Linked DNA regions of Homo sapiens: region 2 is linked to region 1. Evidence: fine-mapped expression QTL. A gene starts in region 1. The other region holds a variant in brackets. All regions are shown on one strand. Distances are from middle to middle. Region 1 holds the start of ABT1 (activator of basal transcription 1). Region 2 overlaps ZNF322 (zinc finger protein 322).

Evidence for each region.
Region 2: its variant is fine-mapped to the expression of ABT1 in whole blood (INTERVAL, PIP above 0.99).

The regions. Positions count from the first base shown.
Region 1 is chr6:26,589,361-26,605,339 of GRCh38, reverse strand. It overlaps ABT1 (activator of basal transcription 1), which reads right to left and starts at 8,387. Exons shown (of 3, transcript NM_013375.4): 1 at 8,117-8,387; 2 at 7,230-7,426; 3 at 4,601-7,075. The coding sequence starts at 8,357. The coding sequence ends at 6,695. TRY-GTA6-1 (tRNA-Tyr (anticodon GTA) 6-1) reads right to left here and starts at 10,466; the gene lies at 10,378-10,466. LOC105374989 (a long non-coding RNA gene) reads right to left here and starts at 2,607. Exons shown (of 2, transcript NR_187833.1): 1 at 1,749-2,607; 2 at 1-684. RefSeq lists enhancers at 8,099-8,538, 9,096-9,255, 9,356-9,505, a silencer at 11,465-11,759 and a cis regulatory region at 12,424-12,528.
Region 2 is chr6:26,638,334-26,654,312 of GRCh38, reverse strand. ZNF322 (zinc finger protein 322) reads left to right here. Exons shown (of 4, transcript NM_024639.5): 3 at 10,585-10,654; 4 at 15,585-15,979. The coding sequence starts at 15,760. Among named protein-coding and RNA genes, the nearest start is that of ZNF322, 13 kb to the left of the region's middle. The variant T/ATTTT (reference allele first, on the strand shown) is at 8,281.

The DNA.
Region 1 (15,979 bases):
ATTTCTTTTTCCTCCAAAAGGTTTCCAAGAAACACTTGAGGTCACATGATAAATCAGTTTCTCCAATGATTCTTTTGATGAATCATGAAAGAATGTCCATTTTCTTTAAAAAAAAAAAAAAGGGGGAAAAAAAAGACTGTCCATATTCTAACTTATTGCTTATATACAATTCTAATTTACACCATCCATATTATCCTCTCCAAGTATAGCAGCTAGATTGGTCAGCTTTATCCACTCTTGAGAAACTTGATATAACATTCCTTATCAGTAGCATTTCTTGCATATGCACCATAGAATCCTTAGCCAAGAGACCCACTGGCCTTTGTTTGTTTAATGGTGTGTGTGTGGGTGTGTTTGCACACGTCTGTGTGGTAGCACTGAATTCCAAAGAAAAAACTAAACAAGCCAACCAGAAGTCCAACATGGAATATAGTGATCCGTAGAAAAGGGCATTCTACATTGAGCCACCAACCCAAATCTCTGAAAATGGCAAATACAGAATTCTTGGTCGTAAAATAGATTATGAGGTTTGTCTATTCCTAAATAATAGACATTTACATCCTTCCTAACTGGTATCTTCATCCAATCCCAGGGAGCACCTCCTCTCAAAACTCCCCATAATTGCTGTTGAAAGATCTATCCAGTTTCTTTTGTCTGTTTCAGCCTAGGTTCTCAGAGAGACATCTTTTAAAGACAAAGATGGATATATCAAAACTCCAATAAGCCATTCCAAAATATCATAAACAAAGAGGCCACCCTAACTTGCCTGTTTAATATTGCAAACCACATACCTCCCACTCCCTGGTCCCCTTACCCTGCTTGACTTTTTCTTTGCTCCATAGAACTTATTACCTTCAAATAGATACAATTACTTATTTGTGTTTATTATGTGTTTCTCCCCAGCTTGAAAAATCCACCCTAGTCTCTGCTGTGTACTGTTGATGTATCCGAATGCCTAGAACTGTGCCTAGCTTTTAGCAGACACTCAATAACTGTTAGTTGGGAGACTAAACGAATAGAGGACATCCAAGAGTCAACAGTTCAAGTTGAGGACATCATCCTAATGTAACCTGACTCTTGGGCTTAAATGTCACTGAAAGGACTAGAAAGACAAATAGGGTAGTGAATATCACAACATCCACCCACCCCCTACCCATCATCGTACTTCAAAGGTCAACCCACATATGCTTAAGAAAATGAGAAAAACAGGAACAAATTTAGAAAATCCTAATATTCAGAATAAAACCCAGAAGAAAATGATTAGAAGGTATACATACTGGAGAATGAGAGGAAGGCAGAAAGAAAAAGAGGAAGCAGGAAGACAGGCAGAAAAGAAATAAAATCTGTCACCAACTTACTCTTTAAAACACAAATATAAAGTATGATCGCAATTTCAGGCTCGCAGTTTGGTGGACAAGCACTAATGTATAGGAGTTTCTGGTTTCATGTCCTGGTGTTTGGCCCCTTACTTTCCCTTAATATTTGTATCAGATTTTCCATTAAATGGTTTTCCCCTCTGCTCTTGCTGGTGTCTTTCTCATTTAATATATTTCCTTCTATGCAACAGCCTTCCAGTGGTTTCTCTCTCAACTGAACTATCAGTGAAAACTTCCTTATTGAACCGAAAATAAATTCTTTCCTTTGATTCTACTCATACTTATTTTGCAAAACGCACCAGTCCCGCGTCCTGCTCTCCACCCAATTAACACTCTTATGTTCCTAAGAATAATATCTGTATTATTACAAACCTCTGTGTTTTGTTGTTGTTGTTGTTGTTGTTGTTGTTTGAAACGGAGTCTTGCTCTGCCACCCACGCTGGAGTGCAGTGGCGCGATCTCGGCCTACTGCAACCTCTGCTTCCTGGGTTCAAGCAATTCTCCTGCCTCAGCCTCCCAACTAGCTGGGATTACAGGCGCCCGCCATCACGCCCGGTTAATTTTTGTATTTTTAGTAGAGATGGGTTTCACCATGTTGGCCAGGCTGATCTGGAACTCCTGACTTCGTGATCCGCCCGCCTCGGCCTCCCACAGTGCTGGGATTACAGTGTGAGCCACGGCGGCAAGCCTATAAACCTCCGTTTTTAAAACACATTAACATAGCAACAATGAGAGTCAAAAAAAGGGAAAACATTTTTCCAATACACGGAGAAGTAGCCTCCTTTCTAATGTATTGTTTAGACTGAAAAAAAGTAAAATAACCTTGTTGGAATGGAGATATTCCACCACATTCATTTCTGTGGCACAATTGGTTAGCGCGTTCGGCTGTTAACCGTAGGGTTGGCCGTTTGAGCCTCGGGTGCCGGAATTTCATGAGAAACGGTATTTTCTTACTTCAGGGATTGTGTCTGGCAAATTAAATGAAAATCCAACCATTATTCTTCCCCTGGTGTTCCTTGGGTATTTTCATTTCCTTGTTTCTTGATTAAATTTACCAAGCTCCTTCTAAATGCCAGTAGATATGAAAGCAATCCCATGTTTCTGAACCACTTGTTTTGTTTCCAAACTCCATCTCTCTCATGTGCTGGTCCATCCAGTAGAGTCCCCACAGCAAAAAGCAGCAGAAGTCACTCGGCCAAGGTCTTGCAGAGCTTGCCCCCTACACTGAGCTGGCGTCGCCTCTACCTGAATCAGTTCCTTGGGTCAGGCTTTGGACGTCACAATAGAGCACGAATAAAAGGGGTGGAGACCTCTAGCTAGGTTTCCACCTGTATTCCTGTGACTGGTATTTTCCTGTGACTGGTATTTTCCTAAATTATCAGACTCTCAATTTTTTTCTTGCTAACAAAATAAATACCAAAGATGGTCTCTCTTAGACTCTGCAATTCCGCTTCTGACAATTTTTACACAATAGCTGTATTTGTACAACTAAAATTGACTCATGTCAGCATTATTCTTTTAAACACTTAAAAGAAAAAAAGATTAGAAGAAGCTGCACGTCCAACCATAAAGTCCTGATTAAATAATCAATGATAATTGACACAATGGAATTGGAGGCAAAGGTGAAAAACAAAAAGAAGTTCTCTGAATTCATTTGCAGGCAATGTGCTGGGGGAGCTCACTGGAGTGCGCTAACCCTGATAGCCCAGGTCAGCCACAGACTGGCCACAATAACTGCTGAAGGTGGCTGGGCACACACCATGCAGCTGCAAAAGACATTGCCAGGTTTCCGATGGCCTCTCCCCTCCGCCCGCCTTCGTGTCTCCAGTTAACAAGGGGTGCGAAAAAAGTGTGGTTTCAAGGGCCCTGGTAACAGAAGATAGAAAATTTTTCATTTTCAATCTCGGCTCACTGCAACCTCCGCCTCCCGGGTTCAAGCAGCGATTCTCCTGCCTCAGCCTCTTGCGTAGCTGGCATTACAGGGGCCCGCCATTACACCCGGCTAATTTTTGTATTTTTAGTAGAGACAGGGTTTCACCGTGTTGCCCAGGCTGGTCTCGAACTCCTGACCTCAAGTGATCCACTAGGCTTGGCCTCCCAAAGTGTTGGGATTACAGGCGTCAGCCACCACACCCGGCCAATTTTCATTTTCTTTAATATTCTGTCAGGTATTGATTTCAAGATGGGAGCCGAGCACCGTGGCTGTAATCTCAGCACTTTGGGAGGCCAAGGTGGGTGGATCGCTTGAGAACGGGAGTTCGAGAGCAGCCTGGGCAACACAGTGAGACCTCATCTCTACAAAAAATATTTTAAAAATTAGCTGGGCGTGATGGTGCATGCCTGCGGTCCCAGCTACTCAGGAAACTGAGGTGGGAGGATTGCTTGAGCCCAGAAGATGGAGGCTACAGTGAGACAGGATCATGCCACTACACTCCAGCCTGGGTGACAAAGTGAGACCCTGTCTCAAAAAATAAAAGGGGGGTGGGCAGGGACCAGCAGATCTAATACTGGATCTTAAGCAATTCACTAAAATTCACATTAAGCCTCCTGGGAACTGAGCATGTCCCTAGACTTCCACCAAAGGATTTTCCCCTCATAATTCTACTGTAATATAACAAGATAAATGCAGGGAGAAAGGTTTTATAAGGAATCACAAAAAAAAAGGAATTTGAGAGTAGCTGTAAATACGACTTTTGAACATTTTTAGGGCAGGGCGTGGTGGCTCATGCCTGTAATCCCAGTACTTTGGGAGGCTGAGGCGGGAGGATCGCTTGAGCCCAGGAGCTCAAGGCCAGCCTGAGCAACATAGAGAGACCCTGTCTCTGAAAAAAAAAAAGAGAGAGAAAGCTTTTAGGCACCCAGACATACCCTATTAAAGCCCTCTTACTCTACCAGGAGTCCCACCTCAACTTATTTGGAAAGAAATCAGCCCACTCCATTGCCATCAAATGCAGAGTCCCAGCTTCTCAGTCAGGAGTGAAACTAAGTTGAATCAGAGTATACACTACAACCACAGGATCATGACTGAGAATTATTACTCAGTTTGCTACTCTTGGTGCTAGATAAAATAAATCCACTCATATTGGCAGGTACACTTCATTCTCTAGTCTATAACATGTGCATTTCTCATGAATTTCCTGTAATAAGCATTCACCATATGCACACTGGGAAAAGCTGGGGAAAAGGTGAGGAACAAAGGATAAAATATTAAGAGGCAAATTGAGTCATCTCTCTGAGCTCAGTTTTAATGGGGGGATAACAATATTATATAGTTGTGGATTAAATGAGTTACTTCATATAAAAAAACAAGTGCTGTTTAAATAGAAACAAAATTGTGGATGTAAAAAATTATTTTCCTACACTCAATGGGCTTAAAGTCAAGATGAAAGTTCCTAGGATATTTTCTTCCACCCATTTATTCTCATTCCTCACTCCACCTGTGACTTACTTAGCTTGCCTGGCCGCAGGTGTGAGCTCTTTGTACAGAACTGTTTTGGAGATGGACCCTGAAATACCAGCCCTTGAACATACTGTTATCTAACGCTGTCCACCGTGGGAATGCAATTTATTTCTTCATTCAAGAAAGTCTTAAATAAAACCCCAGTATGTCTACTGTACTTTCTAAGCTGTTAGCAACTAGAGGGAAAGTTTCTTCTTCACCTTGGTATCTCTTTATCTAGCAGAAGTAGCAATGGGCACTTGGAATTCTGAATAAATGAATATGCCAGCCTGTCAAATTCTGATTCTGGATTTTTCTGTTTCACTTTAAGACATCAATGATCTGAGGAAACAATTCACATGAAACAAACCCACAAGAATTAAAAACAGAAACAAGACGAAAGTTTCTAAATGGAAACGTAGTTTGTGTGCCAAGTATAAGAGGTATGTGGGTTGTGAGAAATGTTATACCAGCTTTACCGTATGGTCCTTTTTATTCTCCCCAGTAAAGTGCACCTGTCAAGATCATAATGTGATTAGGGTATTTTACAGCCAAAGTAGACAAATCCACTCTACCCTATAAAACACAGATCATCACATTGACAGATGAAAAACAAAAACAAACAGCACAAGCAAACAGAAATTATAATCATACTCTATCACTTCATGCAACAGCCTGGAAAATGATCAGAATTTTGGTCTACGTGAGACTGTGTAGACTGTTTATTGTGACACCTAGGTTTTCAGTTCCTTTTAGTGGCTTACACTGATTCTTTGAAGCCTACAGGGCTGCTTTGCCTCAGCCCCACCATATGTAAGTGCACCTGAGGTGCACTGGTTCTCTACTAGGCTTTGCCCACCTTTACAATGGTTCCAACTCAACACTCCACCCAGGAAGCATTCTTTGTAATTGTGGGAGCACTCCACACTCTTTCAGACTTATTATTCTCCCAGTTTACTTTGTAGGAATGATCTGGAAAACTTGGTGAGGACTGACTCACCACTGAAGACTGTGATCATCAATCAGGTTCCCATTGAGAGGACTCTATGACCTGCCATGGCTCCCATTCCACCCTTTATATGCATCTACCACGATGCCTATCTTATACTAGTGGCCTGTAAAACTCTTAATACTAAGATGTGTTATTACCTATTGTCACTGTTTCCTCAAACAATGGCTTAGAAAATGCTGACTTAAGATAACTGATTGATAAACTGGGCTAAGATATTAGACAAAAATTAAATAGAAAAAAAAATCCAGGTTAAACAGTAAGGTGGGTGGCAGGGGGAGGGGGGCTCTAAGATCAGGATATGAAGGTGAAGGGAACACAAGATGAAAGTTGGAACTTGTCCAATGACCTCCCCACCAACAAAAATAAAAAGGCACATAAAAATATTTTTATTTTCTATAAATACATTAGGAAATGTATTTCTTCCCAACCCAGTCCACCCCATTAACTCAATTTTTTCTACATAAAAAAGATGCTAATACCACCCTCACCTGTGACTGCTAAACAGAGAAAGATTGCCTGGACTAGGCATTATCCTCCTAGTTGGAAATAAAGGCCCTTTCTGGGGGCAGGAAGTGGGATTTTCAGGGGACCCTACAGACGTAGGCAGCCAAGAGTCAAACAAAACAAGCATATGCAATAGTCATAATTATGCTAGTATGACAGTATGAATTAGGTGACTCAGCCAGGCACATACAGGAGTTCGGAGTGGGGACAGTGGAAGCCCACAAAACTCCATGTTTGGGCCATCAGTAGACACTTGGTCTGAGAAACACAGTAAAATGTCTGCCCGGGTAGTCACGATCATTCTAGTATGAGGTAGACAGGAAGCAGAGCAGGGCCAGGAAATGGAAGGGGCCACCCAGGCCCTCAGGAGTCCCTGACAAGGGAAGGTCCCTCCATGCTCTCTGAGGGTGGCGGGGCTCCAAAGATCCTGGCCAGGAGCCCTTTGTTGGAGCGGGCCTTGTCCTGGGCAGTTGCCAGGCGAGCCCGTTCACGTCCCCCTGGCCGTGCTGCTTTACGGGCCCTCAGTTCCTGCTCAGTAGGACGCTGGGCAAATGTCCAGGAGCCATCTGGGCGAGCAGGGTCCCCATCGGCCGCAAGAAAGCGTTGTCCCCGTTCCACACTTTGAAGATAGAAGTCGGTCTCACGCTTGGCTTGAGCAACCTCCGCTCTCAAGCGCTGCCTGCGCACCTGGCGCTCAAAGGCGAGGTGCTCGCTGAGGTGGGACCAGGTGAAACGGTGCAAGTACTGTGGGCAGAAAAGAAGAAAAGATCAGGATAGTGCAGATTAGGGAGAAAGATGAGACAAGGGGACAAGGCCAATGAGAGGCCATGGGGATACTTGGGCCAGAGTTGGGGAGAAGGGAGGGTGAGAGGTGTGGCAGAAAGATCTATCTTCTCACCTTGAGGTTCCAAAGATCATAACGGAAGGGGCTGCGCCTGCGGGCACCCATAGGCGTGTTGTGTAGACTGGCCGCCACGCGCTTGGCTATGCGCTTGTCACGGAACTCCACCCATCCCTCGGTGTAGTCCTTGGTGTAGGACCGCTTTTTTCCTCCGGCAGCTGCTGCTGCCTTCTTCTTGCGTCTCACGAACCGGTCTGCGCGCCAAAGACAAAGACCCGTCCAGGACGCCTATGCAGCACTCACTCAAAAGCACCTCCCACTGCCCGCAACGTTCTTCACATCTGCCAGTGGGAGTCCCACCTGAAGAGTTTTTGCCCAGGAGGAAGGGAACTGTAAATCGCACCCTTTCCTCTAGCTAACTCAATTCTTTCCTTAATTGTCCACTCCTTAATCTGGCCAGCCCTGAACGCTGCTTAAAACCGGCACAAGTCCTCAGCCTCAATGTAAAATTGAGGGTGGAAAGAAGAGGGGCGGTTGATCAAATAGTTTCTTGACCTAGGCAGCAATGCTAAAGAGTTATGTTCAGTTTTGTAGAAAAGCTGACGAGACTTTTACTCAGGTTGTATTCATGTAACAAACCAGTAAACAGGTCCGGAAAGAGAGGTGAACAGAGCCGGGATAAGAACACAAATAGTAACAATCCGAGAACTAAAGAACCACCAGACACACTGCGCTACCCACTCTCCCCATATCCCCTCCGCCCGCCCACCCCAGCATCCTCACAGACTGATTCACCAGCCAGGAGCCAAGCACCGCACTCCCCACCCCCAAAATCCAGCAACTCGTGCCTCAGCCTCGCGCAGCGAAGCAACAGGACATGCATGCTTGCACCCCGCCAGCGAGCGACAACCTCCTCCTGTCACCGTCAGGGCCTGCATACTTACCCTCAGCCTGAAAGAAGACGCGTCCGACCTCGCCATAGGCGCTGAGAAGGTTGCGGACGTGCAGGGGCCGGAAGCGCGGCGGGATATGGCCCAGGTACACAATACCTGGCACTACCCGTTTCTTGCTGCCACAGGCCGCTTCTTCGGATTCCTCCTGCTCCTCCTCCGCATCTAGTGTCTGTTCTGTCCCTTCCAGCGGCTCTTGCTCCGTTGCGGCCTTCTCCGATTCCTCTGCCTCCATGTTGACTGACACGAGCGGCACGACGGCCGTAAAGTGCCTTGCCAACTGACGCAAAACGCGTGCGACGGCCTGAGACGAGGGGGCGGGTCCAAGGTGGTGATGACAAATGAAAGGAAATGATTGGGCAATACAGTCGGGTCCAGGGGAAGGCCGAGGGGAGAGGGAGGAAGTGGTGTGTCAGGTCGGAAGCCTGATTCAGAGCGTGGAAGCGGGATGGGAAACTTGGGTTAGGCTCAGATTCCCGGTCAGATCTCCAACTCAGGACAGGCAGAACCAGAAAAGGCAGATCCCCAAATATAACCTACCCTATAGAACGCCTTGTCGAGACGCTAAAAGGCGGGTTGATGCCGGCTTTTTAGGGAATTTTGCAGAACAATTTTAGAGAAGTTTCTATGTGTTCTAGCGATCAAAATAGCATTTTATTCAAGGGCCCCGGGTGCGATTCCAGCTGAGGAATGACTCACCTTTTAAAGTTTATAAATTTCATTTAAAAATTTTGAGTTTTGAGGTTTTAACTATTTCTGGAAATTTACCTCGGAATTTTGAATATTTTAAAATTTAATTTTGAAAACAGTTCAACTTTGGAAATTTAATTAGATTTAATTTTTGAAAATTTAAGTTGTGAACTTTCAGTTTAATATTTTACATTTGATTTTGTGAATGTCTGAAAATTTAAATGTGTGACAATTATTTGAAGAATTTGTTTGGCATCTATTACACGTGTGTATTGATACATTATCCATATGCATACTTATGTTGCAAATACTTGTCAGAGGCGCACAAGCCTCCAATTCTGGCGACCCCCCGGCGGCGCGCTTATTTCTGCTCTCCCTGGGTCTGTCCTCAGATTCCCTATCAGATCACAAACCACTTTTCCTTCTATGACCTACGCAACCGCAGAACGGACCGGGCCACGGCGGTCCTGCTCCCACCAGGCGGCCTGCGGACCATCCCTAAGCCAAGCTCAGGGCAGTTTTCCCCGCGCGGGCTCGGGTCCTCAGTCTCTTATCGTCGCCCGAGGGCGCGACCAGCAGGGGGCGCCGTCCCCACCCTTGAGGCGTTTCAGTTCTTCCCATCGGCGCCAGCGACAAGCTGACTGCAAAGGACAGTGCTGGGAACCGCGTACAAGTAATCCGGTTAGCTTTCTGGAAGCAGCCCGGGGCGAGTTTGATGACTATCAACATAAATCCGTCCTTGCTGCGGCCTGACAAAATTTCCCATCTCGCTCCAAGAGCGCAGAGTAGCCCAGAGAATGGAAGCAGGGAGTAAATGTGTCCACTATTAAAATCAGAGATGACAGTTTTTGCCAGTCCCCAAGTATATTTCTAAAGTAACAGGGCCCTGCACTCTTTCATGGAGTGTCTAAAAGTCTAATAATAGACTTCTCGAATTCAAACACGCCTGTTTCATTAACTTTATTGAAGAGAACTTTCTGTCAGGTAGGTGTCCACTGCTCCTTTTTTGAAGAGGAGCGGGGTACGATGAGAGCGATAAACTCCGTCTACTGCTATTTAATTATAAACACTGACATCTTCAAAACACAGTACAGTTAATGAAATGAGAACACGTGTTGGGGTGGCTTTAAAAGATCTGGAGCTAGGGGAGGGGCATGATGGATGCAAGAGTGTCGGTAAGTTGTGCCAGTGTGGTGGCTAATGGTAGCTATTAGCTATTTTCTCTACTTTGTATATATTTGAAATTATCATTAATAAAATGTTTATTCACACCAAGTATCAATATAACAGGGGGTGCTAAAGGACCGTGAAACCGACAAAAAAAAAAAAATGAAGCCTTGGGGCAGCGTGTTCTTCCCGTTCCCCACATTCCTCATGATCCCTTCTCAACTTGGTGAAAATCGAGTCCCACTCAACTGTCTGTGAAGCAACCCTTGTTAGCAATTTTCAGGGTGGATTATTTTCCTTCTCTGAGCGTCTTACAAATTCCTGAATAAGCAAGCTGCACATGCGTTCTCCAAGTTTCCTTATTTCAGGCCCAGAAGAGACACTTTTAAAAATGGAACTCCTCCGAGCCGGATTCGAACCAGCGACCTAAGGATGACCACATTCAAACCCCTACAGTCCTCCGCTCTACCAGCTGAGCTATCGAAGGATGTCATTACCCTCGTTTTGGATTCTTTAGGATTTACCTATTGCTTTTGACTATCCTGTATTCTTGTTCATTTTGAAAATATAGGGAAACGTGAGGAAATTTTCTAGGATATTAGAAATGTTCCAAAATGTTCTAAAATGTTCTTATCTGAGTAGGGATACTGACTATACAAGTATATGAACAATTCTCTTGAACATTTAAAATTTGTGGGTTTTACTGTAAAAATGTTTCACATAGGTCCAAAAAAATAAAAAATAAACAAAACCACACCAATATTCCATGTCCTCCTCCCTTAGAATAGATAGGACCATTGCCCTTATTGCGCGTGTTGTCCAGCTGTCCTGTCCGCTTAGCACCTCCTCTCTCTATAGGAAGTAAATAATAAAGACAAGGTTATTTTAGACAACTGGGTTGAAGAGGGGGGACCTACCGCCTTGAAGCGAAGTTACTGCCCAGTTCATTTCGGAAACATTGAGATTCTCCTTTCTGAAGGGCAAGGAAAATTACACAATTTGTATAATTTGTAATTTGTGTTCGAGACACAAAACAGAAGTGCGTTGTGTGTGTACATATGTTTAGGAATTGAGCGGCTCATATGATATTGCACAATTGTAATGGGACAAGTAAATGAAACACAACACTTCTCTCTCCCCCTACAATTTAAAAAAGAAATATAGCATTCTATTTACAGGTGTCAACCTAAATAACAAAGAGAAGCTCTCTGAAAGAAAATGATGTTTATTTGGGAATAGAGCATTGCAATGAAAATACGAGTGCCATAGGAAACTATGTATATTCAGGGAGGTAAAGGAAGACAAAGGTGTTTGTTTGTTTGTTTTTGAGTTGGAGTCTGGCTCTGTCGCCCAGGCTGGAGTGCAATGGCGCAATCTCGGCTCACTGCAACCTCCGCCTTCCGGGTTCAAGCAATTCTCCTGCCTCAGCCTCCCGGAGTAGCTGGAATTACAGATGCCCGCCACCACGCCCGGCTAATTGTTGTATTTTTAGTAGAGACGGGGTTTCACCATATTGGCCAGGCTGGTCTCGAACTCCTGACCTCATGATCCGCCCACCTGACCTCATGATCCAGAATATAAAGTGCTGGGATTACAGGCGTGAGCCACCGAGCTCAGCGACAAAGATTTGTAAGGGAAAAAATGAGAAGGATTATATAACTGTGTTGAGGTAATTATTGTCTGCTACAAAAATGGATAGCAAAGAGGAAGCTAGTCCGAGGTTGGACAGGCAGTTGTGGGGCAGATGTCCTTGTAGAAGTATTTTTTGTGTAAGATTGTGATGGCCTGTGCAAGATTGTGGTTTTTGCAGTCTTTTGTGATAGTTTTTGTTATCAAGCATGGCCTTTTCCAGCTCTATTAATTAGCGTTTTTAGTTTGTTTTGTGTGTTTGTGTGTTTTAACAATAGTGACTCCATTTTGATTCTGACAGTTTTCACAAAGGTATGCTGTCATGCTTTGCTAATAAGTACCTATCATGGTATTCAGCTTCCTCGTGCCTAAAACAGAAATGAACACCAATGGGAAGAACGGGAAGGCATCTGGAGAGACTTTTCTTTTTTATAAAATTATTAGAAGTATATGGAAATTATAAATTGTGAAATTTATGGAAAGGAGTGTTGGTGAATTTATTTATAAAAGATCATCACTTATTACAGTTAAAGTTCTCCATAATTGTAATCTTGACAAAAATACGGTTTTTTTTTTCAAAAGATCCTCTCCAGCGTTTCCCATGAGAAATATCTGCAGCAACATAACTAATATTTAATTCAGTTATTCAATTCATTGCCATGAGAAACTAAGAATATATGGTCTGGTAAATTCCTTTCCAATAATGTAACCTAGTCGGGGAAAATACGAGAAGCCAGAGAAGAGAAATGAGCAGATTCTTATGAGATGGTCTCTGCCCATATGAAGTGTACTAACTGAGCCTTGGACACCAGATGTGAAAGCAGTTGACCAACCCTGCCATTTCACCACCAAACCCCAGGATCTCAGTTCACATGCTTTCTCGAATAAAAGCTTCACTAATTTTCACAGGGGGCAGCAAACATACAGAAAAAAATGCTCAGTATGTTTCTCATCAGTTACTGCTATGCTCAGGAGCTCCCAGAGCCTCCTGACTCTCAGTGACACGGTACTATAGAGTTGATTTTGATCAGGAAGAACTCCAATAGCTAATCTCATCAATTATTTTCTTTACCTATAAACTAATCTTAGCATAAGAATCACACCTCAGGGCTGTTAAAGTTGGAATTTCATTTGCCTGAAATGCTCTTTCCCCTGATAATCCCCAATATTTGCCTCCTGGGAATACAAGAACAAGTAATTAGTACCTTTCCGCACTAGATTTCTGTATCACTTTGAGGGAAGACTTCCTTCTTCCTCTTCTTACAGAATCTGGTGTCAGAACGGCCATTCTATTTATTCCCTCTTGTTGCAGACACAAGTTCAAAATGGGTTTATGGCTAAATCTAACTATCTGAAATAATTCTTGGAAATGTATCATCATCACTTGATTACAATCTCACCCTGTAGCTTCTCTATTGTTTTAGCACCTTTTCAACTTGCGAATTGAGTCCTACCTAGATGGTTTTAACTTCTCTTGAAGCTTACAGACCACTATAATATTCCTATGGAATAAAAAGGAACAAACTATTGGTAAACGTAACAACAGGGATGAAACTCATCTGCATTATGCTGAATTTACAAAGCCAGATACAAAATGCTACATACTATATTATTCCTATGAAATTCTTGCAAGGGCAAAGCTATAGGGACAGAAAATATCCTTAGTTGCTACTGGGGTAGAAGATAGGGGAGAAATTAAGTATAAAAGAAACATAGTGATTCAGTAAGAACAAAATAGAAAAAGAAGAAGAGGAAGAAGAAGGAGAAGGAGAGGAGGAGGAGGAAGAGGAGGAGAAAGAAAGAAGGAAGAAAGAAGAAGAAGAAACAACTTCTTTCTTCTTTCCTCCTGGGAGGCTAGGCCTGGTGTCATGCCTGTAATGGCTTGAGCCCAGGAGTTCCAGCCTGCAGTAAGCTATGATGGAAGAACTGCACTCCAGCCTGGGTAACAGAGCATGACCCTGTCTATTAAAAAAAAAAAAAAAAGAAGAAGAAGAAGGAGAAGGAGAAGAAGAAGAAGGAGGAGGAAAAGAAGAAGAAACATGCAGAAATTTGGGGGTAGAGTGATATTATTATTCCATATCTTGATTGTAATGGTGATAACACGACTGTCTATATTTGACAAAATTTGCTACACTAAGGAGAATGTACATTAAAACTGATGACATTACTGTATGTGAATTGTACCTTAATCTAAAAAATGGGAAGAGTAACTTTCAAAGAATTAAAGAAGAAAAGAAAAGTGTAGCTTAGAATTTAATTTTGAAATCAATGTAATCAGTGTAATTACTTTATTATCAGACTAAACAGGAAAAGCCATATGATTATTCCAGTAGGTGTAGAAAAAAGCAATTGACAAAATTCAGATACATTTGTTAGAATTTCTGCAAAGTATAAAAGACATATTTAAGAATTCAACAGCTAATATATTTAGTGATGAAAAACTCAAATGTTTTGGCCCTAACATCAGGTCCAGAGCAAGGATGTCCACTCTCACAACTTCTATTCAGCATTATCCTAGAGATTCTAGCCAGTGCAATAACACAAGAGAAAGAAAAAAATACAGATTAAAAGGAAAAAGTGAGACTATCTTTATTTGCATGTAACATTATTGTCTACGAGAAAATACTGAGGAAACTTCTACAAAGCTACTACAACTAATGAGTAAGCTTACCAAAACTGCAGGACACAAATATAATAAATTGTAATTCTATTTATTAATAGATTGTATTTGTTAACAATAAATAGTTAGAAATTGAAATACAAAATACCATTTGAAATAGTATAAAAAATATGAAACATTTAGAGATAAATTTACCAAGATGCAATGAAAGCAATGCATTGTTTCCAGAACAGAAAATTTAAACAATTTTCAGATATCAATTCCACATCTTTCAAATTGACTGATACATTTAATGCCATGACTATCAAAATCTCAATGATTTTTTTTAGAAATTGGCAAGCCAAATATAAAATGTATAAAATGTATACAGACAGTCAAAAGATGCAAAATATCCAAACTAATTTTGAAGAACAAAGTTGGAAGAACACTACCTGATTTCAAGACTTACAACAAAGCTACATAGAGTCTAGAGATAAACTTACATGATTATGATTAATTGATTTTTGACAGAGGTGCCAAGGTAATTCTACAGGAAAACGATAATCTTTGCAAAATGATGCTAAAAAACCTGAATATCCATGTGCTAATAAGTGAACTTAGACCCTTATATCACACAATGTACAAACATTAATTCAAAATTAATCAAAGACTTAAATGCAAGGACTAGAACAACAAAACCTCTAGAAGAAAACGTAGAAGGAACTCTTTGTGACTTTAGGTTAAGCAAAAAGATTTTAAATGGGACACAAAAGCATAAACCATAAAGGAAAAAATAAGTTGAATTTCATCAAAGTTTAACAAAAAATCTGCGCTTCAAAAGATACTGTTAAGAAAAGACAAGTCAGGCCAGGCATGGTAGCTCAAGCCTGTAATCCCAGCACTTTGGAAGGCTGAGGCCGGCAGATTGCTTGAGTCCAGGAGTTCAAGATCAGCCTGGGTAACACAGCGAAATCCCCTCTCTACCAAAAAAAAAAAAAAAAAAAAAGTCACAGTTTAGAAAAAGATACTTGGAAAACACTTCCCTGATGCAGGACTTATAACCAGAACAATAACATACTCTTGCAACTCAATAATAAGACCAGACAATACCCTTTTTTAAATGGACAAATGATTTGGACAGATATTTTACAAAAGAAGCTGTACTGATGGCCAATAAGCATAATAAGATATGTAACATCACTATTCATTAGGCAGATGCAAATTAAAGCCACAATGAGATACTTTACACACCTAAGAGAATAGCTGAAGTTAAAAAAAAAAAAGGTGAGAAATTAACAGTGCCGAGCGCCGATGATGATGTGAAATAACTGAAATTCTTATATATTGCTGGTGGGAATACAAACTGGTCCACCTTGAAAAACACTGTCAGTTTTTAAAAATGAAGTTATACATATATTTGCCATAACACTACATGAATATTTATAGTAGCTTTATGCATAACTGCCAAAAACTAGAAACATCCAAGTATCTATCAGCTGGTGAATGGATAAGTTGTAGTAAATCCACATAATGGAATACTGCTCAGCAATAAAAGGAATTAACTACTAATATATGCCACATTGATAATTTTTTTTTTTAAGACAGAATTTCGCTCTTATCACCCAGGCTGGAGTGTAGTGGCGCAATCTCGGCTCACTGCAACCTCTGCCTCCCGGGTTCAAGCGATTCTCCTGCCTCAGCCTCCCGAGTAGCTGGGATTACAGGTGCCCGCCACCACGCCCGGCTAATTTTTTGTATTTTTAGTAGAGAGG
Region 2 (15,979 bases), 49 kb before region 1:
AAACATTACTAGGAAAAAAAAATAAACATACGTAATTTCACACATATATACGTTTCTTTATTCTCTATATAAACCTTAAAATCTTGACTTATACTGGTACTTCTAATTCCAGTTAAACACTACAGAGTTCATTCTAGCCTTTCTCTTTTCTGTTTGTAGCCTTCTTCATTGACAATGGGGAATCTAGGTGACATTATCCATAGTATATTTACTTATTTATTCGGTCCTAGGATACACATTAAGTAGTGTACCCTTATCCCAACAGGGGAGAAAATCTGTACTGATTCGAGTTATTTTTATCTTTAGATTGAATATACATAGTCCCAATATTGTGTTAGAGTTATTTTTTTTTCTCTTCTGTGTAGTTGTTATTTATTTGAAACACAGGCGCATTTGTTTTTATGCTTTTCTCTTCCATCTTGACTATTTAGTTCATTAGTTCATTCATGTATTGAATATGTAAAATGTAACATAATTCTAAAAGTAAAAATATGTGTGCTGTGTATTCATATTCTCAGAGAAATGTGACTCTTCTCCTCCACCCAATTCTGTTTTCCTGTGCCATCAATTCCATTTTTATCTGCCTTGTAATGATAACCAATCTCATTAGTTTCTTGTTTTTTGGGGCAAGTGGAGAACTACATATATAATTTTTTATTTTTACTTTCTTACATAAAATACAACATACTTTTTTACACTTTGCTTTTTTAAATTTATAATTTATCCTGGAAATCACTCCACATCAGTTGATAAAGATTTTCCTCATTCTCTTTTACAGTTGCATAGTACTCCATTATGTGTGGATGTATGTACCATAGTTTATTCACCATTTTCTTACATACAGATATTTATTTTAAATATTTTCCCGTTACAAACATTACTATGAGTAATTTTATGCTTTATATTTTCATGTTATTGGAGGTGAATCTTCAGAGTCCATTTCTAGAAATGGGATTGCTGAGTCAAAAGTAAATGTATATCTAGTTTTGTTACATATTGCCACATTCCCCTCCGGACGAGATTGTACCCATATGCATTCCCTCCAGCAACGTATGAGTTTGTTTGTTTCCTTACAGTGTTGACCGCAAAATGCATTGTCATGCCTTTTAATGTATACTGATTTAATTGGTGATACTGGTATTTCATGTACTTTTAAAAAATTATTTCTTTTTTTATAGACTTACCAGTTTGCATTCCCTCCAGCAACATATGAGTGTGTCTGTTTCCTTACAGTGTCGACAACAAAATGCATTGTCATACCTTTTAATATATGCAGATTTAATTGGTGAGAACTGGTATTTCATGTACATTTAAAAAATTATTTCATTTTTTATAGACTTTATTTTTTAGAGAACTGTTAGGTTCATAGCAAAACTGAGCAAAAAATACAGAGAGTACCCATATGTCCCCTACCACTCTCTTTACCCTGACACATGCACATACCACACACATAGCACACACAGCATCCCCCGCTGTTAATCTCTTCAACAGAGTGATACATTTCTTACAATCAGTGAACTTAAGTTGATACATCATTGCCACCCAAACTCCATAGGTTACATTAGGGTTCACTCTTTATGTTGTACATTCTATGGGGTATCTACAATTTTTTTTTTTTTTTTGAGACGGAGTTTCACTCTTGTTGCCCAGGCTGGAGTGCAATGGTGCGATCTCAGCTCACTGCAACCTCTGCCTCCCAGGTTCAAGTGATTCTCCTTCTTCAGCCTCCCTAGTAGCTGGAATTACAGGCTCCTGCTACCAGGCTCAGCTAATTTTTTGTATTTTTAGTAGAGAAGGGGTTTCACTATGTTGGCCAGGCTGATCTCGAACTCCTCACTTCAGGTGATCCACCCGCCTCAGCCTCCCAAAGTGCTGGGATTGCAGGCATGAGCCACCATGCCTGGCTTGACTTGCCAGTTTTTTTAAACTGGTTTGTTTTCTTGTTGAGTTTTAAGGGTATATGTATATTTTTGTATATTTTGGAGATTTTTAAATGTTTGGAATAACAGTCTTTAATCAGATGTGTCTTCTGCAAATATTTTCTCCCAGTCTGTGGCTTGTCTTCTCATTCTCTAGACAGTTTATTTCATAGAGCAGACATTTTTAATTTTAAAGTCCAGCTTATCAATTTTCCTCCATGGATCATACCTTTGTTGTTGTATCTAAAAAGTCATTGCCAGCACAGGCATGGTGGCTCACGCTTATAATCCTAGCACTATGGGAGGCCAAGGTAGGCAGATCAGTTGAGCTCAGGAGTTCAATACCAGCCTGGGCAACATGGTAAAACCCATGTCTCTACCAAAAATAGAAAAAATTAGCCTGGAGTAGTGACACATGCCTGTGGTCCCAGCTACTCAGGAGGCTGAGGTGGGAGGACCACTTGATCCTGGGAGGCGGAGATTGCAGTAAGTTGAGATCGCACCACTGCACTCCAGCCTGGGACACAGAGCGAGACCCATCCCAAAAATATAAAGTCATTGCTATACCCGAGTTTATCTAGATTTTCTCCTATGTTATCCTCTAGAAGTTTTATAGTTTTGTGTTTTATACTTAGGTATCTGATTCATTTGGGGTTTGTAAATTTTTTTTAATTGAGAAGTAAGTATGTATGTATTTATGATGTAGAACATGATGTCTCAATATATGTATACATTGTGGACTGGCTAAATCAAGCTATTTAACATATATTACCTCACATACCATTTCTTGTGGTGAGAACATAAAATCTACTGTCAGCAATTTTCAAATATGCAATGTATTTTTATTAGGCATGATGTAGAACTCTAGAACTTACCTACAGTACAACTCTAGAACTTATTCCTCCTGTTTAACTGAAATTTTGTATCCTTTGACCAATTTCTTCCCAACCCTGCTATGTCTCAGCCTCTGGTAACCACCATTTTACCATCTGTTTCTATCAGTTAGACTGTTTTATACTCCATATGTAAGTGAGGTTATGTGGTATTCATCATTCTGTGTCTGTCTTATTTCACTTAACATAATGTCCTCCAAGTTCATTTATGTTGATGCAAATGAGAGAATTTTATTCTTTTTTTTTTTTTTTGCATGTGAATGTCTAGTTACTTCAGCACCATTTGTTGAAAAGACTGTCTTTTTCTGCCTTGTATTTATTGCCTTTGTTCCTTTATCATGGATCAGCTGACTCTATTTATATGGGTATATTTTTGGACTCTATTCTGTTCCATTTATCTATTTGTCTGTTTTTTCACCATTACCACACTTTCTTGATTACTATAGCTTTAGTCTTGTAACTTCAAATAGTATAGTAAGTGTTGAAGTTAGGTAGCATCAGTCCTCCAACTTTGTTCCTGCCCTTCAGCATTATGATCGCTAATCTAGGTCTTTTACCTCTTCATATAAACTTTGTATCAGTATGTCAATATTCACAAGATAATTTGCTGGGATTGTGTTGAATCTGTAGTACAAGTTGGGAAGAACTGACTATTTGACAATATTGAATCTTCTTATCCATGGATGTGGAATATCCCTCCATTTATTTAGTTCTCTTTTTTATTTCTTAGAGTTTTCAAATTTTCTTTGCATAAATTATGAACATATTTGGTTAGATTTATACTTAAGATGTTTTATTTTTTAGAGTGTTAATGTAAATGGTATTGTGTTTTTAATTTCAAATTTTACTTGTTCATTGCTGGTATAGAGGAAAATAATTGATTTGTATGTTAACCCTGTATTGTACAACCTTAACTGTAATCACTTCCTAGTCCCAGGAGTTTTTTGTCAATGATTTTTTCAGATTTTTACATATATGGTCATGTCACTTACAAAGACAGTTTTATTTCTTCCTTCCTAATCTCTATACCTTTTATTTCCTTTTCTTGTCTTGTAGCATTATCTCTCTATTCCAGTATTATGTTGAAAAGCAGTGGTGAGAGAGAACATTCTTACCTTGTTCCTGATGTTAGCTGAAAGCTTCTAAGTTTTCACCATTAAGTATGATGTTAGCAGTGGTTTTCTTGTAGATGTGCTTTATCAACTTGAAGAAGTTTCTCTTTGTTCCTAGTAATATCACTTATTTTAATTTGCATTTCTCTAATTATGAGATTGAACAGCTTCTCATATATTTAAGGGACATTTTTATATTTTGTGTGTGTGAGAATTGTCTTTTGCTTATTTTTCTATCAGATGTTTGTCGTTTTCCCTCAATTTTTAAGAGATCTTTATATATTAGGTATATTGTCCCTGTATCTCAAATATTGTTACAAATATTTTCTCTTAGTTTGCCCATTGACCGTTGACTTTGTTCATTTTTTATATATATAAAATGTTTTTGGCTGGCACAGTGGCGCACGCCTGTAATCCCAGCACTTTGGGAGGCTGAGGCGGGCAGATCACCTGAGGTCGGGAGTTCGAGATCAACCTGACCAACATGGAGAGACCCCGTCTCTACTAAAAATACAGAATTAGCCAGGCATGGTGGTGCATGCCTGCAATCCCAGCTACTCAGGAGGCTGAGGCAGGAGAATCACTTGAACTCAGGAGGCAGAGGTTGTGGTGAGCCAAGATCACGCCATTGCACTCCAGTCTGGGCAACAAGAGCGAAACTCAGTCTCAAAAAAAAAAAAAAAAAAATATATATATATATATATATATATATACACACACACACACACACACACACACACACACACACACATATGTATGTATATATAAAAGAAAACTTTAAAAAAAGTTTTTATTTTTAGTCAAATGATCAGTCTTACAGATAGAAAATTTTTGGTACCCTAAGATTAATGTAGAATTTACTTTAGTTTTCTTGTAGTATCTTATCATTTCCATGTATACATTTAGAACCCTAACCAATTGGGAGTTTATATTGGTGTGTGGTATGAAGTGTAGACCAAATTGTACCTATTTTCATGTGGCTACCTTGATGTTTTACCATCATTTATTAAAAAGTCCATTTTTGCCCTGGTGATTTGAGATGTCATCTTTATTGTATACTAAATTTCTATATGTGTTTATTTCTGGATTTCCTTTTCTATTTGTCCCTTTATCTAATTGTGTTTTGGAACTCTGTTGTTTTAATATTAGAAGCTTTAAAGTTTATTTTAATGTCTCATGGGTTTAGTTACCCTTCATAGTCTGTCTTTTCATTGCTTCATGGCTGTCCTTGTTGGTCTTTTCAAAGTGAACTTGAGTAGCAACTGTACAGCTTAGGCATTGGAGATTTTTCTTTAAAGGGCCAGAAAGTATTGTATTTAGGCTTTGGTGGCTATCTGGTCTCTATTGTGACTACTCAATTCTGCCTTTCAATACATTAATGAATAAGTATGACCCTATTTCAGTAAAATTTTATTTGAAAAAAACAGGTGGCAGGCCAGAATTGGCCTGTGGGCCATAGTTTGCCACCCCTTAGTCTAGTTTCATAAAGAAGCTTGTTATTTTTATTGAGATTGCATTGTTTATAAATCTTAGGAGGGAACATCTTCATAATGTTGAATTGTTCTATGCAAGAACAAAGGCTGTCCTTCCATTTATTCGAGTCTATTTTTGGGTCTCAGGAGGGAGAAGTTTTCCTATGCTTTATTTGGCATGGCTATGTTTTATTTATTTCTAAGTAGTTTTATATTGCTGCTGTTATACAAAGGTTGTTCTCTATCATTGTGTGTTCCAATTAGTTATTCTTTATATTTATGTAAAAAACTGGTGGTTTCTGTGTGGCAAATTTTATATCCTGCTACCATACTGAATTCCTTTATCATTTGAGTTAGTTTTAGCATTGGTCCTTTGTAGGGTTTTCTAATTCTACTATTAAATCACCTCCAAATAGAGATAGTTTTACTTCTTTCACACCTCTAATTGATTTTTCTAATTGCATTGATTAATACTTCCAGGTCAGTGATTGAAAAGAGAAGTATTGGCCATACTTGCCTTGTTCCTGATCTTAGTAAAAATTATTGTAGTTTTTCTAACTTAAGGTACTGGATGAAGGAATGTATGTTTTATCATATTAAAAGGAAATATCTATTAATTTCCACTTTCTTGAGTGTTTTTATCCAGAATAGATGTTGATTTCTGTTGCAGGTTCTTTCACTATCTATGGAGATAATATATTATTTTTCTCCATAGGTCTGTTCATATGGGGTATTATATTTAGTGGATTTCCTCATATTGAAAGATAGTCTAATTTTGAACCAATTTTGCAAAAATTCCACTTGGTCATGGTATATTATTTTCTTAATGTGGTATTGATTTTTGTTAGTATTTCTCACATTCATAAAAAATGTTAGCCAGGCATGGTGGTGTGTACCTATACCCCAGCTATTCAGGAGGCTGAGCCAGGAGAATTGCTTGAGCCTAGGAGCTTGAGGCTACAGTGGGCTATGATTGTGCCACTGCTCTCCAGCCTGGGTATCAGAGCAAGACCCCGACTCTTTAAAAAAAAAAAAAAAAGCGATATTGGATATTAAAATTTTTTTATGCTCTCTTCATCAGGTTTAGTTACCAGTGCTATCCTTATTTCACAAAAAGAATTAGGAAGTTGTGCTTCATTTTCGGTGCTCTGGAAAATATGTATGAAGCATTGTATTTATTTGGTCTGTGTAGATTTATAGAATTATTTCGTGAAATAATCTGGGCCTAGTGCTTTTTATGGAATGGTTCCTTTATAACTTTTTCTATTTATTCTCTGCAAATTGGTGTTTTAAGACTTTATATCTTTAATGGAGTCAACTCTAATAAATTGTGTTTCATAAAGAAACCCTTATTTTATAGTTAATCATATTTATTTATATAGAGATTTGCAAAGTGGTTTCATGTATGTGTGTTTTTCTTTTCGGTGGTTATTCTTCCTTGTCATTTCTTATTTTGTAAATGTGTGCTTTCTTCCTTTTTTTCAATTAAGTAACCTAGTGGTTTATCTGTTTCTTTAAGTTTTACAAAATAAGTATGATTTTGATTTATCATTAGATTTACTGTCTTTTTGTTCTCTAGTTCATTGATTTCTCCTTTTATCTATTTTTGTTATTATTTTGATTTTTTTTCCCATTAAAAAACAAAATAGAGACAGGATCTTGCTATGTTGTCCAGGCTGGTCTTGAACTCCTGGGTTCAAACAATCCTACTGCCTCGGCCTCCCAAAGCACTGGGATTGTAGGTATGAGCTACCATACCTACTTATTTATTTAAAATAGAAATTGGGTCTCATTAATATTGCCCAGGCTGGTCTTGAACTCCTGGGCTCAATTGAAATTTATTTTTTTCTTAGCTTTTGATCTAAGAATTTAACTTGTTCATTTAAATTCTTCTGTTTTTATTGATTAAAGAAATATAGGCATGAACTGGTTTAAATTTATCCCATAGATTGTAATATATAATATTTTCAATTATGAATACTTAAAAATTTTGTTAACTTTTTCATTGCCCCTTTTACTGAATAGTTTTTTAACAGTTTATTTTCCCCCCATTTGAAAGGACCTTTGGTCGCTTGATATTTTAATAAATTTCTAGTTTTGTTGCAGATTGTTTCTTGTAATGTTTCTTTGCGATAATGATGCTTCCTTTATTACATAATATATGACAGATTTTTGTGGATGATTCATGTGTTCTTAAAAAGAATGTGTACTTATCAGGACATACGGTTTAATATAAATAAGATTTACTTATTAATTAGGTTATTTAGGCCTTCTGCATCATTACTTCTTGGTCCAGTTTGTATGTCTTTTATTGAGAGTGGTATATTAAGCTTTCCTATTATTAATATTTTTATCTCTGTTTCTTTGTATCTGTTTCTCTGTTTTTCCTTTGTAAATGTGCCTGCTGTGTAATGTGATACATAGATAACCATGACTTTAGTGTAATTTAGAAAGTATTATTATGTTTAATTCTTTTGGCTTGAACTCTACTTTGCCTGATATCAGGATCAAAAGCCCTACTTTTATTGTTTCTGTTTGCCTAGTGTTCCTTTTCCCACCTCCTTATTTTTAGCCTGCCTGAATCACTTTGCTTTAGGTGTCTCTTGTATTTAGCATATAGTTAGGTCTTGCTTGTGAGCCAAAATGAAAATCTCTTTCTTTTAATAGGTGTGTTAAGCTCATTTATATTTATTGATATAGTTGATGTTTGGTTTTAACAATGTCATATTGTTATAACTGTATTTTGTTACTTTTTTTTCTACGATAGGTTTTCATAGCTCTTTCATGACTTTCTGTTTTGAATGTTTGATTTTTGTTATATTAGCTACTTTTGTACTTAGATTTATTTATTTATTTATTTATTTATTTATTTATTTATTTATTT[T/ATTTT]GAGGCGGAGTTTCGCTGTTGTTGCCCAGGCTGGAGTGCAATGGCCTGATCTTGGCTCACCGCAACCTCCACCTCCTGGGTTCAAGTGATTCTCCTGCCTCAGCCTCCCAAGTAGCTGGGATTACAGGGATGTGCCACCACACCCGGCTAATTTTGTATTTTTAGTAGAGACAGGGTTTCTCCATGTTGGTCAGGCTGGTCTCGAACTCCCGACCTCATATGATCCGCCTGCCTCGGTCTCCCAAAGTGCGGGGATTACAGGCGTGAGCCACCGCACCTGACCATACTTAGATCTTTTTTAATGCCTTTAGTTCATTAAAAAAATAAATTTTTATATTTAACCTTTAATTATTTGGTTTTTAAGGGTTTCTAAAATTTTTCTTTTCTAAAAGGCCATTTCAGCTTCAGATGGTTTTTTAGTTTAATAGTGTACTTTAATTCTCACCTGCCATAAATACAATATAGTAATCCCACCTTATTTGTGGGGGATATGGTCCAAGACTCCCAGTGTATACCAGAAACTGCAGATAGTATTGAACCCTAAATGGCTTTTTTTTTTCTATACATACTTACTGTGATAAAGTTTTTTGTACTTAGAGTGGGTTTTTCTTTCTGGCAATGAATTTTAGGTCAGTCTTGCCCACTGCTAGCTCTCTTCTCTTTACCTCTCATTCTCAGATTGTCCTTGCTCTCCTTGATAGCTTATGGCTAGAATGTGAGAGACAGCTATATGGGATTTGGTGACAGTGTGGGCTTTGTATAGTACATTTGTTCTTCTTATTCTTACTGCTTTTAAAGGATGTGTTGAGAGATTTGGATTTCTGTAGCCACTGTTATCCCCTCTGACTGTGTTTTATTACCACATTCTTTATATTTCCTCTAGAGATATTTTCCTTTTTTTTTTCATATTTAAGTCAGTTTTCTGTCCACTGACTTCCATGGCCAATTTTAAATAATTGGTGTGCAAACACCGCATGTTCTCACTTATAAGTGGGAGCTGAACAATGTGAACAGTTAGACACAGGGAGGGGAACAACACACACTGGGACTGTAGCAAGGTGCGGGGGGAGGGAGAACATCAGGAAAAATAGCTAATGCATGGTGGGCTTAATAACTAGGTGATGGGTTGATAGGTATAGCACATGTTTACATAGGCACACATTTACCTATGTAACAAAACTGCACATCCCGCACAGGTACCCTGGAACTTAAAATAAAAATAAATAAATAAATAGATAAATAAATAAATGGTGTGAAAACTTACAGGTTTTCTGAGAAGTCTCAGTTGACAATTACGTTTTACAACTTCCCTCACTTCTATATTTAGGGCTACACCGAGCTTAGGCCCCATACTGAAGAGGACCAAAAGGGGGAAAAAAAAGAAATAAAATCACTGCTGGTTGAATGGCATTTAAAATTCTGCTCTTTCCTGACTTGCATGCTATGTGCTTTTTGGAGTTGTCAAATAACTGGGCCATACATTCTGTCCAGACTTCATAGTTGGATTCAATGGGATGACATCTGTGACATGTATTTACTCCATCTTACCTGGAACTAGAGCCATAAAACATGTCATTTTAATACTAGCAGCTATAAGCTAAGTGTCATAGAGAGCCTCAGCTGTATGGCCCTATATGTTGCCTGGGTCCAAGTAGTTCCATTTTTGCTTCTGATCCTCAGTAGCAGGAAGGTTGTTGAGGGAACTGCAAGTCCCATTAACCTAAGGATAAGGCAGGTTAAAACTTCTAGAGAAAGACATCAATGGTTAAGTGTGGACTCTCTAACTTCTTTTTGTGCCCCTAATTGACCACCTCCTGGGTTGTTTGTGGTTGAAATATAAATCAGCTTAGGGTGTTATAAATTTTGAATTACCAAAATTGTGATGATTACGTGGGTTGCAGTGGTGGTAAGGTGGTAATTTTGTTATAATCCCAAAAATACTTTGTAGTCCCTATTACACTTTGGATCAGGACAGCCTGAGTTCCTGTAGGGAAGATAATGCCTTCGTGTTTTCAAGATACCACCAAGATTTAGTGTTAGGAGCCCTTTCCTTCAATGTTGTTATAGTTGCAAAGGAAGCTATAGATTGTGCAGATGGGTTATAGATTCTGTATTGTCCTTTTCTCTAAAGAGTCATATGGGATGATTTAAGACTCTACAGAATTGAATTTAAGGGATTAGATAAGAAAACCCATCTGTTCTTTTTAACTGTAGTTTACCCATTGTTAAATCCTTTGAGTGTAAATGATCTAGTGCTAAATTCTCTCATTTATGGCTTTTTATCCTTGTCTTTGTGTTTTACAGAATGCTATCTTCTTTGAGAAGTCAAATTGTCAGGATCAGGAATGTATGTTTTCTTCCATCTGGATTCTAGGTAAGCTGCAGTTACTTCAGTATTTTGAAGTATCCCTTCTCTTTCCCAGACTCCATCTCATCAGAGTACCTCCCATTCTTTGTGACATTCAGTCCTTTTATCAGACAAGGAGAGAAGTAGAATTTCAATGAGAATTCATACATGTACTCAGCAGATGCTTATTAAGCACCAACTTTGTACCTGGCATTACTGTATATGGTAAGGAAAGATAAAACAGACATCCTTGTCATATTTTAGCAATAGACAATAAACTGAATAAAGTGAATTATATAGTATGTTAGAAGGTTTTAAGTGCCATGAAGAAAAGTAAAGCAGAAAAGGGGAATAGTGAATGCTGGGGCATGAAGACTATTCACAACTTTAAACAGAGTGGTTAGGAAAGGCCTTCCTCAGAATTGACATCTGAAAAAATAGTCTTTGAAGGAATTAAGAGAAATTCATACACACATCTGGAGGAAGAAAGCTGTAGGCAGAAGAAAGAAAGGGCAAAGGCCCTAAGGATAGTATGTTTGGATGAGGAACAGCTAGGAAGCCATTGCGGCTGGATTAGAACATGCAAAGAGAAGAATAATATAAAAGGGTGTCAGAGAGGCAGTGACAGGCTAGCAGGGCAGCTCAAGTGGGCCTCTTGGGCTATTGTGAAAGTAAGAAATAAGAGTGGTTTGGACTGGAATGTAACAACAGAAGCTGGTGAGAAGTGGTTAGACTCTGGATGTGTTTTGAAATGGAGCCAACAAATTTGCTGATGGCTTGATTGTGAGGTGTGAGAAAGAAGAGTGCAGGATGACTTCAAGGTTTTAGCCTGAGGAAATAAAGGATGAACTTGCCATAAACTGAGATGAGGCAGGTGATAGGTGGAGTAGATCTGGAATCCAGCCCCAGTATAAGTCCTTTGCTCACTTCCTTTGACTATAAGGCAAAAACAGATACTTGCCATTTAGCTCTGTAAACTGAATTTAATAAAAGAAAATAGGAGTAATGCTTGTGATACGTTAGGCTTTGAGGATTGAGATTATGACGGTGACAGAGTATACTGTGGACTTGTAGTCTAAGGAGTTCTGTGATACCGTGAAAGTCACCTGAAAGATGTAATTTGGACCAAAAAAAAGTAATTTCTAGGACAGTTCATAGATCATGGAGATATGCTCAAATATTTCTGAAGGGGGCCTACCCCTCCACACCTGTGGGTATTTCTTGCAAGGTCCTGTGGGTAAGGTGGAGACGAGAGACTGAGAAAAGAAGACAAAGAGAGACAAAGACAGAGACAAAATATAGAGGAAGAAAAGTGGGCCCAGGGGACCGGCGCTCAGCAAGTGAGGACCTGCACCAGCACTGGTATCTGAGTTCCCTCAGTATTTATTGATCACTCTCTCACTATCTTGGTGAGGGGGATGTGGCAGGACTATAAGGTAATGGTGGGGAGAGGGTCAGCAGGAAAACATGTGAGCAAAGGACTCTGTGTCATAAATAAGTTTAAGGAAAGGTGCTGTGCCTGGATGTGCACATAGGCCAGATTTATGTTTGACTTTACACAAACATCTCAGTGCAGTGAAGAGCAGTATTGCCTCCAGCATGTCTCACCTCCAGCCATAAGGCGGTTTTCTCCTATCCAAGTAAATAGAATGTACAATCGGGTTTTACACCGAGACATTCCATTCCCAGGGATGAGCAGGAGACAGATGCCTTCCTCTTATCTCAACTGCAAAGAGGCCTTCTTCTTTCACTAATCCTCCTCAGCACAGACCCTTTACGGGTGTCGGGCTAGGGGACGGTAAGATCTTTCCCTTCCCACGAGGCCATATCTCAGGCTGTCTCAGTGAGGGGAAATCTTGGACAATACCCAGGCTTTCTTGGGCAGAGGTCCCTGCGGCCTTCCACAGTGCATTGTGTCCCTGGGTACTTGAGACTGGAGAATAGCAATGACTTTTACCAAGCATACTGCTTGCAAACACATTTTTACCAAGGCACATCCTGCACAGCCCTAAATCCATTAAACCTTGAGTCAATACTGCACATGTTTCTGCGAGCACAGGGCTGGGGCTAGAGTTACAGATTAACAGCACCTCAAGGCAGAAGAATTTTTCTGAGTACAGATCAAAATGGAGTTTCTTATGTCTTCCTTTTTCTACATAGACACAGTAACAGTCTGATCTCTCTTTCCCCCACATATTTGAAATGTAGGATTTTAATCACTGTATTTAGCATAAACATGTCTGTTTTGTTTAGCTTGTCTACTTCAGTTTTGACTTCCCTATTCTTGTTAGCCTTGCAGTGCATTTTTCTCCCATTATGTCCCGCGGTGGTCACAATACTACATTTCTTGTGGATCTGTGTTTTGACTCTGAAGAAATTGCACTACTCCCACCTCATTCAGTTCTTTCTCCTATCCCTTTAAGTTTTAGAACAGTTCTGAGTTGACATTTGAAATCTTGGTATATCTTTTTATATTTATAAATAACTTTTACTTACTACAATAAAATTGAGTAAAAGTAGCAGCCTCTGTGCCTTTCGCAAGGAAAGCATACAAATTGCTGAATGGAAATTAGAAAACTGTTGTTAACAAATTGATGAAACAGAATGTTATGTATCATCTCATTACCCAGAGGTAACCATGTTAGTACCATGTGTTTTGGATCCTTTTGACTTCCTGTTTTCTCTGAGTGCACATGTTCCTTTGTGTTCTGGTCCATTACACTTACTAATTTGCTGTATTCAGTGAGCTTTAATATCATTTCCTTTACAAATAGGCTCCAATCTAATATCTAGTTTCTTGGATTCTGGACCTTTTTGATAATTTAAGAAACCGTGTACCTTCTCCCCAGAAAAGTGCACATATACTGTACATTTTGCAGTCAAAGTTTTCATAAATTACCTGGGAGTCTGTGGATGCCAAGTAAGAACTCCTCTTCTAGGTTTGAGTGCCTACTCTGTGCCAGGCACTTTTCTGAGTGCTGGGGAAACAATAGTGAATGAAGTGAGCCAAAAATCCCTGTCTTTTAGGGGCTTACATTCTATGGAGAAAAACAAAATAGGAAAGGAGAGGAGTGTTGTTTTTGTGAGTCAGCTGGGACGGAGATGTGGTACAGTTTAGAATAGGGTGGTTGGAAATGACTTCACTGAGAATATGCCTGTTGAGCAAAGATGTGAATGAGGTGAGAGAGAGAGCCTTGAAGATTCCTGGAGGAAGAGCCCTTCATCCAGGAAGAGATATCAAGGATAAAGACCCTGAAATGGGAGTGAGTCTGGCTTGTTTGAACAACAGCAAAGACTCAGGGTGACTGGAGTGCAATGAGTAAGTAGAGGAAGAGCAGAGAAATGGATCAGAGTAGTAACTACGAGTCAGATTTCTTAAGAGCTTGTAGGTTTCTAACAGAAGCAGTTTTGGTGGAGTAGTGAGGGTTGATTGTTTAATTGGAGTATGTTCCAGAAACCTTGGAAGACAGAATTGGAGACAATGAGCAGGTTTATTTATTTCAAAGCGTTTTACTGCGGAGAGGAACAGAGAAATGGGACAACAGCCTGAGTGTGAGGCAGTTGAGAGGTTTTTCTTGTTGATTGTGCTTTTGTTTTTGAGAAGAGAAATAATATTGGAATGGTCCAATACGAAGGAATAAATTGATAATGCAGGAGAGGGAGGGTGGAATTGCTAGAGTGATGTCCTTGTGAACAAAGGGGGTATACAGATGGAAAGGCTATCCTTAGATTGAGCAAGGAAGTTTGTCATCCCTGGTAGCTGAAGGAAAGATGCAGTACGTGACCACACTTACAAGAGGTTGGTTGATGTGGTGGGGGCATGTGGAAAGGATTTTGGTTTTTGTGTATGTGTTGTTGTTTTGCTTGCTTGCTTCCATTTTCTTGGTAAAATAGGAAGCAAAATTATCAGGTTATACTCTTTAGGTGACAGACGAGGGGTCTGAATGTATGAGGGAGGGTCAAACATGAAAAGATCACTGAAGAGAGTTAAGTGTGAAGGATATGGAAAATGGCTTTTTTTCTTCCTTTTATTTCTGTTCTTTAGTCTATTTTTGGTAATTGATAAATGCATTGACTTATTACTCCCTCTGAACTCTCTTGTATCAACCTAACTTTTTTTTAAGATACTTGATCCTTTAGGTGTTTCTGTATGTGTACATACCTCTAAACCACAGAATGAGGAGGAAAAAACTTTTTTTTACAACTTTTCACCATGTAAAGAAAAGCCTGTTATAAAATCTATGTTCCAAGCCTAGACTTGTATCTATAATCAGTCAGGATTTTTCTTTTTGAGCAAGTTATGTGCTTATATAATCATATCAAAGCAGAATCTTAAGCCCCTTTGTCATAATAACAGTGATAGTAAGAGCCAAAACAGAGGGCTTACCAGGAGATTCATAGCGATTTAATATTCCACAGAACCGTGTAAGGTAGTTTCTATTATTAATCCACTTTACAGATGAGGAAACGAGGCATACAGTGGTTAAGAAACTTGCCTGATATCACCACTACGAATTAGAGTCATAGAAACCTTACTTTTCTCTCTGGTCACTTGGAATTCTAATGATCATTAACTACTTTCTTCCAAGCTTTCTGCAGAAAGGACTCCAGAGATACTCATTCACTGTCCCTTTTGATTTGCTTTCTTCATGAGCAGGCATAATAATTATTAGTCTTGTCTTGATTTCTCAACTGAAGCAAGGAAAGATGAAGAGCTCTTGTTTAAAATTACCCAGATTCATAGAGAAAAGAGTTCTTACTTGCAGTTTCCCATATGTATTGCTGATCAGTTTTATATTAGCAAAGAGTAAAAGTAAATAACTGATTTCAAGCCATATAAAACCTAGAAGACTTAGGGACTCTGATACAGAGTTTGTCTTTTCTGCAGTGATTTTAATTTTGAGAATTCTTTTCTTAGTCATAGGAATATAAATAATATTTCTACTTTGTCTCACAGGGTTGGAAATACCAAGTAAGGAATTAACATATATGATGCTGGAAACTTGTAGAGGCTCATGATTGAAAGGCCTGAAACAGATGTATCTTCCAAGTTCTTATCAAGAAAATGACTGTGAGGGCAACGATGGGTCAAGAAGACCAGCGGAAAACTCCCTAGGAGAGAGCCATAGAAAATGTACACTTCAGAAGAGAAATGTAATCAGAGAACTCAAAAAAGGAAAATATATAATGTATGCCCTCGGAAGGGTAAAAAGATTTTTATTCATATGCATGAGATTATTCAGATAGATGGTCATATATACCAGTGCCTTGAATGCAAGCAAAACTTCTGTGAAAACTTAGCTCTTATTATGTGTGAGAGAACCCATACTGGGGAGAAACCTTATAAATGTG